Linked DNA regions of Homo sapiens. The main gene of each other region encodes a partner of the protein of the gene in region 2 in a complex. Each region holds a gene or a part of one and is shown on either strand. Other genes may lie near its edges. The genes, in order: TPM1 and LMOD2. A codon is read from its position in the direction of its gene.

What was found.
Region 1: the proteins of LMOD2 (region 2) and TPM1 are in contact, whole or in part, in an NMR structure (PDB 6UT2), measured with the Homo sapiens proteins. Residues at the interface, in NP_997046.1 of Homo sapiens: Lys12, Tyr13, Leu21, Leu22, Leu25, Glu29, Glu32, Leu33, Arg35, Glu36, Leu37, Asp39, Ile40, Glu41; in NP_001018005.1 of Homo sapiens: Met1 (codon at 1,845), Ile4 (codon at 1,854), Lys5 (codon at 1,857), Met8 (codon at 1,866), Gln9 (codon at 1,869), Met10 (codon at 1,872), Leu11 (codon at 1,875), Lys12 (codon at 1,878), Asp14 (codon at 1,884).

The regions. Positions count from the first base shown.
Region 1 is NC_000015.10:63,040,986-63,044,896, forward strand, and holds the start of TPM1 (tropomyosin alpha-1 chain), read left to right. Parts: upstream 1-1,761; 5' UTR 1,762-1,844; coding exon 1,845-1,958; intron 1,959-2,720; coding exon of another isoform or gene 2,721-2,846; intron 2,847-3,008; exon of another isoform or gene 3,009-3,041; coding exon 3,042-3,167; intron 3,168-3,911. UniProt on the Homo sapiens protein: Binds to actin filaments in muscle and non-muscle cells. Plays a central role, in association with the troponin complex, in the calcium dependent regulation of vertebrate striated muscle contraction.
Region 2 is NC_000007.14:123,658,608-123,662,518, reverse strand, and holds part of LMOD2 (leiomodin-2), read right to left. Parts: intron 660-3,911; coding exon 1-659. UniProt on the Homo sapiens protein: Mediates nucleation of actin filaments and thereby promotes actin polymerization. Plays a role in the regulation of actin filament length. Required for normal sarcomere organization in the heart, and for normal heart function.

The DNA.
Region 1 (3,911 bases), on a different chromosome or scaffold from region 2:
GTGACCAGGCCAGGTCTGGATCCCTGGAACTGACTCCTAACTCCCTATTCTTGCCTCCTCTGCTGAGCTCCAACCTGGGGAGTCAGCTCCCTGGAGTCCACGCATCTGGATATCGTCCACATGCCTGGAACTTTGTCACTGTTCCGGTGGCTGGGTTGACACACCGTGATTAAAGGGCTCTGGTCAATTTCTGTGCCACGCAGCCCCTATGCTAATGGTCAGATCTAATGTTCTGACCATTAGGTCAGTGTATCTTTTCCCTCCTGGGCAGTTAGGTTAGTGGAAGAAACCCGATAAAATCTTGGAGAGGAATTTGATCATTCTCTGAAGGACTTACAAGTTGTTTGGCCTGCCTAATCTGCTCAGATACCGTCCGGGGAATATTTGGTAACCATGCAGTACAGACTGTGAATTATTCTGTGGGGACTATTAACAAGACCCTCACCAACCCTGCCTCAGCTGATCTCAGGGCTTGGGGGCAGCCCCCTCTCCTCCCCTCCCACTGAAGCTCTGAAAAAAAGCAGCCTTTCCCCCTTGGGAGATGGGAGGAGTAGTTAAAAATAAGAAGTGTTGGGGGAAATCCTCCTCCTTCCAAGCACAGCTCACACGGCAGAGCCTCCTCAGAGTTGCGGCTGCGGATGCAATGACTTAGCCAGGTTAACGCCGATCCCATGTTTTCCGAAACCTGGCACCTAAGCATCTAACATGGAAGGCCGACTCCCTAAAATCAGTGCAAGAAAAATGATAACAAGTTATATCTGGAGGGACCTCGGGGATTATCTACCCGCTGGATTTAAAGTTGAGGAAGCCGCGGGCAGCAAACAAGGTCTCACAGTTGCTGGTGGCAGAGTAGAGACCACAGACCAAATTGCCTGAGTCTAAACTCAATGTTCTTTCCCCTTAGACTGCCACCCGCACACACACGCACACATGCACACCTTTTTGGAGGCACTGCACAGCAAGCACAGAAGTACGCCACTGAGTCCTGTGTCCCTAAAGTATTTGACTGTCCCTCCGCTGGGGGAAAGGGCAGGCAGAAAACAAGACTCCGTGTGCTGTCGCTGTGCCGCCCCCTGCCTCTCTGACCCGCGCCCGCAGAGAAAGTCTCAAGAGCCGCCCCAGGCTTTCTCCCACGTTCTCCCTTTCTCTGCTGCAGTTGAGTTTCCAGAGCGTGAGCGCGCAGGATGACACCTGGCTGGCTGAGAGCTGCCGGGGAGGCGCTGGCGGGTGCCGAGAGCGCACTGACCCTGACGCGGGGTGCAGCACGGCTGGGAAGCCCCCGGGCCTTTGGCTAAGCGCGCCGGGGGACGGCACAGGGGGGCGACGCGCATCCACCACCTGGTCCGCGCTCTCCCGGCCTCCGGCAGCTCAGGGCGGGCTCGGTTGGGGACCCTAATGGCTGGGTGCCGGCCCTGGGAGAAGGGCACGCGGAGGGCGGAGGGTTGCGCCTCGGCCCCGGCTCGGCCCCAACGCCCTCTCCCTGGCGCGCAGGTTTAGAAACAGGGCGGCCTCTCCGGCCGCCGCCTCGGCGGCTCGGGTCCCCATATATAGTCATATCCACCGTCAACTGGGAGGCCGGCGGCCGGCAGCGAATGGGCGAGCGGCCCCCGCGGGAGGAGCGGGGAGGGGGCACGGGGCGGAGGGAGGAGAGGAGGAAGGGGGGCAGGAGAAAAAAGCTTTTCCAAAAAAGTATTGGCTGTCTTGAGGAATGCGGTCGCCCCCTTGGGAAAGTACATATCTGGGAGAAGCAGGCGGCTCCGCGCTCGCACTCCCGCTCCTCCGCCCGACCGCGCGCTCGCCCCGCCGCTCCTGCTGCAGCCCCAGGGCCCCTCGCCGCCGCCACCATGGACGCCATCAAGAAGAAGATGCAGATGCTGAAGCTCGACAAGGAGAACGCCTTGGATCGAGCTGAGCAGGCGGAGGCCGACAAGAAGGCGGCGGAAGACAGGAGCAAGCAGGTCTGCGCCTCCCCGGCCCTGCGCCCGCGCCCAGAGCGCCGGGACTCGAGCCTGGCACCCCCGGCTGGATCCCCACCCCGAGGACTCGGGGAGCCACCACCCTACCCCCACCACCACCCAGGGCGGCCAGGGCGCGCGTCTGGAAAGAAGGAAGGGAAACGCAAGAGCCAGGCTTAGTCTAACTTAGTCTGGTCTGAGGACGCTTATTTCCCTTCTCTGGTTCCCATGGCCCGCGAAATCAAGTCCTAGAGGCGCTTTATTCTCAGGACTGGGAATCAGTTTGGGGGAGGGAGGAGGACACCCGGTTCCTGGGGACGTTTGAAGGAAGGGCGAGGGATGGAGAAAGGGGGTCGAGTAACTCAAGTGTTAGAAGTTCGTTGACTTTTGACTGGGGAGAAAGGAACCTTAAACTTGGGGAGGAGAAGGGAGTCCTGGAGTTGTTACCTAAGAACAAAGATGGGGCGGAATGGAGGCTACAGCCCGAAAGCCAGGCCAGCAGTGGCGTTCTTCTGTGTCCCCAAGTAGTGGACTTGAGCCCGCTGAGACCTCGGCAGGAGTCTCGTCCCAGGGCAGGTGGGTGTGCGGGGTGAGCCGCGGAGCGGTTCCAGCTCGGGTAAAGAGGAAGTTACCTCGGGTCCTTTGCACTCCAACTCGGCGGCGCCCCGAGCCCGAGGGGCCCCAGCCAACCCGACGCCCGTGTGTTGTGTGTGTCTAACACCCGGTCCGTGCCGGCCGCCCGCGCCCGCCCGCCGCTGCCCCCAGCTCGAGGAGGACATCGCGGCCAAGGAGAAGTTGCTGCGGGTGTCGGAGGACGAGCGGGACCGGGTGCTGGAGGAGCTGCACAAGGCGGAGGACAGCCTCCTGGCCGCCGAAGAGGCCGCCGCCAAGGTACCCGGGGCGCGCGGCACGGCGTGGCGCACGAATGGCTAACTCTTTCTCTTTCTCTCTCTCCCTCCCTGTCTTTCCCTCTGTCTCTCCCGCTGTCCCTGTCCTTCTGGTTCTGTGCACCCACACCCCTCCCCTTCGGGATCACGCTGCCTGCTGCACCCCCCTCCCTCCCTGTACCCCCTGGCCAACTCCCAGCTGGAAGATGAGCTGGTGTCACTGCAAAAGAAACTCAAGGGCACCGAAGATGAACTGGACAAATACTCTGAGGCTCTCAAAGATGCCCAGGAGAAGCTGGAGCTGGCAGAGAAAAAGGCCACCGATGTAAGTGCACGCTCACACTGCTTCCCTCACCTCTTGCCTGCGTGGCCACTCCGGGGTCACCACAGGGCTGGAGAGCAATGAAGGAAGTTTACCTTTTCCTGCTGGACACCTGCACACAGCCCTGCCATGGCCCAGAGCATTGGATGCCGCCTCTGACTGCTACTGCACACATTCATTTATATTTCATCCACTCCTCTCTTCTTCTCCTTTCCTTTACCTCCCTGGGGGTGGAGGTGGGTGGATGAGAGGCTGGGAGAATAGAGCAGCTGAAATTGGACTCTGGAGGTGAACTTCACCTCCCTGGTGGCAGAAAACCCTTGAGGTGTCATCACCAAGGTTTGTGTAGAGAATGCCAGGTTTTCTTCACTTTCTTTCCTTTTGCCGTTTCCAGTGGGTGGGAAGTTCTGGGTTTGGTGGTGGGTCTAGTCAGGGTTCAGAGAACCTGGCCTCTAAATGAAAGAAATGACACAGCGGTACCTTTACTTAGATGGCTGCACTTCATGGTGGGGCACAGAGACACTTTGAGGCTTCCTTTCTCATTAGTGTAAGCCTTAATCCACCCCTTAAGATCTGCCTGGGAAGATGATACTTGCTTGGGTCTGCAGTCTGAAGGCACTAGATCCAGAAAGTAAGCTGTGAGTTATATATAGCTCAGTGCTTTATATGGTATAGTGAGCTAGCTGCCCCCTGCCCCTCCTGCTGGCCCCGCCCCCACCTGTCAGCCTTCTGACAACCACCACATAG
Region 2 (3,911 bases):
CCCATGATGTGCCTCTGGTTATGGAAACGCAGCTCCGTGAGCACCGTGTTGTGCTGGAGAGCTCTCATGATGGCCAGGATCCCCTTTCCCGTTATGAAGTTGGACTCGACGTTTACGTTGGTGATGTGCTCATTGACTTTGAGCATCTCTGCAATGGCCATGGCTGCACTGTCGTCGGCATGCGTGTTGGCCAGACTGAACGTCTTCACCACAGTGTTGTCCTTGAGGGCTTCAGCAAAGCGGGTAAGGGTCTGTGTTGTGATGTTCTCAATGTTGTTCAAATTGACTTCTGTGGTGTCAGGGTCATTGCTTTTAATCTTGTCCAAAGCGTCCTCAATCACTGTAGGATTTCCACAAGGGTGAATGGCAGCTGGGGACTCTGTGTTCCTCCCATTGCTGCCATTGGTCAAATTTATGTTCTCTATTTGACTTTTAAATATCTTTGGCTTAGAGTTGTCAGAATTGACACTATCATAATTTACAGTTCCATTAATCCCTTTTGCAGTTTCAATTGTTCTTTCCTCTTCGTCACTGTCTTCTTCCTCCTCTTCCTCCTGGGACTCCTCCTCCTCCTCCTCTGTATACACTTCCTCAGAAACCTCACTGTTACTTTCAGTAAAGATAAGCTCTTCTTCACTTTCCTCTTTGTCTTCTGCAACCTAAAGAGTATGATATCATCATTAAGCTTCTTAAAAATGATACCATTTTTAAGTACATTTTTTAACTTGCAAAAGTAGCACATGGCAAGTGACATAAGTTTATAATAAAAAAAGTTAATAATCCTCTGCTTCCATTCTGTCTAGTTCTCATGACCAAGGCTGACATTTTATTGCAATAAATAGCAATAGCTTTTTCTACAAACATTTCTCTTGTTTTCTGCAGAATATCCAGAATTCAACTTATTGAATAAAAATATATAATCATTTTGCTAATTTGAACAAATAAATCAGAACTTCAGCTTTGGAAAACCCTTGATAAATTTGTTCACCTCCTGAGGACCGACTCTTACTGGTTTACTCTCCATTTACTTACAATGTAGCAAATTCAACCCTCCCTTCTGGAATCACTCTGTTCTTTCTTATTTCTCCATCTCAAGCAATCAAATGACAACAAAAATATACAATATGTTAATGAGTTTCCCTTTTTAATTCAAAAATTCCCAAATTTTCCATCCATAGCAGATGTGACAGAAGCCAACCACTCTCTGCCAGGCCTTGCCTCAGTGTAGACAGAAGCAGAGCTGTCATTTGCTCCTCCAGCATTTATTTATCTGCTTCTACGGTAGAGCCCGGCACAGGGCTCTACCACAGAAGACTCTCTGAATCACCTGAGAGCTGCCTCTGTAGCTGTCCCTTATCTGGGCAAGGGAAGCCTAAAGGCAGGGCTGCTGCTCAGGACAGCAGGAGGTCAAAATCCAGTTCGATGCAGAGAAAACATTCAGGTCACCCTTTTGGGAAAATCAACTTGAAACCTCCAACTAGTCCAGGGTTAAATGAGACAGACTGTAGAAGACCAGGTGGGAAAGATAATCACCCTTGGCATCCACTAGATTCTAATCAGTAAAGTGGATGGAACAGCAGAGAACAGCAGAAAATCTTGAAGTAAGCCATTGCCCAGCCTGAAGGTCTTAAATTATTTAGCATGTATCAATTATGAAAGGCTTTCAGGCAAACACAATTTCATTCTATCTTTGTCTTTCCTGTTTACAAGATTTGCTGTACAAAGACGCTCAAGTGACCCCTTGTTTCTCTTTTTCTTGCTATCTTTTCTGATTAAAAAAAAAAAAGGTCTAGAAATTGCTGACAGAGTCTAATCTTTTTCTCCTGCTGTCTTTTTAGTCCTTTCTCTTTATCTTCTCTACAGCCCTGGGACCCTGCCCTGTCCTCCAGGCCCTGATTCTTCTCTCTATATTGGCAACTTTTTTTTTTTTGACCTCGAGGGCGCCCGCTGCCTGAAGCATGTAGATCTAGCTTTGGAAAACACTGCCCTTGTCTCCAGGTTCGTTTGCCCAGTTGCTATCACAAAATAGCCTCCAGTTATCCACTGTTTGGAGTGGCAGGCACCGAGTGATGGCCTGGGGAAGGGGTCAGCCACTCCTGGGATGACTTTTCCAGTCTTAATTTATTCACTTCTTCAGGAGCAGGGAGGGAGAGAGAGAGATACTCTGTGTGTCTCTGTGTGTGTGTGTGTGTGTGAGAGAGAGAGAGAGAGGGAGAGAGAGAGAGAGAGAGAAAGAGAGAGAAATGTTTGGTGGCAGCTGGCTGCAAGTCACAATGCAACAACATAAGAAAAAGAGTGTGGCTCTAGCCAAGTCTCCAGGCATACGTGAGGGAAGAGAGGAAGCCTTCCCTGTCCAGCAGTGAAACAAATGGATTAACCCGAGGAAGGAAAGAATTGTGGGCTGACTTCTCCTCACCCCATTCCACTCCAAATTCCTTATAATTCTAGTCCCTGTAAAGCTGTGTGTGTTCATGTGTTTGTATGTATTTTTAGCTGTTTCAGTATTTGGAGGAAAGGGGCCTGTCTCAAAATCCAAGGTATACGGCCTTGTATGACACCATTACATTTTACTCCCTTTGGTTTTTTAAAGACCCTCTGGCTCTATCTGCAAGATCTGTTTTCCCCTTATAATGTACCTGGACAGATAATATCTGAAACTGTGAATTGTCATATAGCATCTAAATGATAGATCTCCCAGAAAGCCTTCTTTGACATCCTCTCCAAATATCCCTCAGACGCATTCCCATACCATTGTACCCACCCCCAATAAAGTACCTGTCGCACTTTATTTTGGTCACTTGTTTTTCCCAGCAGACTGTTAGCTGTTGAGAGCAGTGGACCATGTCTGCTTTGCTCACCTAGCACAGTGCTTAGCATGTAGTAGGAGCTCAATAATTATTTGCTTACTGAATGGCTCTAAGTTGACATTGGTTAACAGCAGCTGAGAGTCAGGACTACACACAGGAGAAAGGTGATAAACCCTCCCAGTTTGCCTGAGTGTGAAGGGTTTCCCAGGATTTTAGTCATGAAATCTAGATAGTTCCGGACAATCTGAGATGATTAGTCACCCTAGGTGGGGGACATCTGGAGAAAGAACAGAAGGGGAAAAGGTGTCTACAGAGGCAAGGTGAGAGGATGCAAAAAACAGACTTCGCTTACTTTATAAAATACTCTGTCCCTAGGGGGCCTGTTTTATTACAGATTTCCTATATGCCACTGCTTTGGCATTAACCCTGATTCTTTGGAGAATGGAGGTGGGAAGGAGGGTATAGAATAAGGAGGTGGGAGATGAGATGGCAAGGGACTGGACAAGGAGAAGGGGAATGTTAGTAAACTTAGAAAACAAATCAGGTAATGAGAAGAGTGGCCGGTTGTTTCTCCTGATCACCTCCCTATTATGTATGTACATATCACATTCAAAGTATGTGTTAATTGACCGTTTATGTTATTGGTAAGGCTTCTGTCCACAGTAGGCTATTAGTAGTTAAGGTTTGGGGGAGTCAAAAGTTATACATGAATTTTGGATGCTGCAGGGGCAGGAGTTGGTTCACCTGACCCCCATGTTATTCAGGAGGTAACTGTAGTTGAGCGGTTCTTAAGTTTTACTGTGTGTCATAATCACCTGTGAGAGCACCAATTGTTGGGCCCCATCCCCAGAGTTTATCATTCATCAGATTGACGGGAACTCTATAATTTGCAGTTCCAAGAAGATCCCAGGTAATGCTGATGCTGCTGACCGGGCACCCACAATTTTGAAATGTTCTTTAATTTTCACTTCTATGTACAAGCTCTTAACCTCTAATGAGTTTCTTAACCTTGCCTTGTCTCAGTTCTCAAGTGCAGAAAGTTAAAAATGAAGTGAGATAATGGGAGAAACTCATTGGCACCTGTGCTGAGATTTAACCACTGCT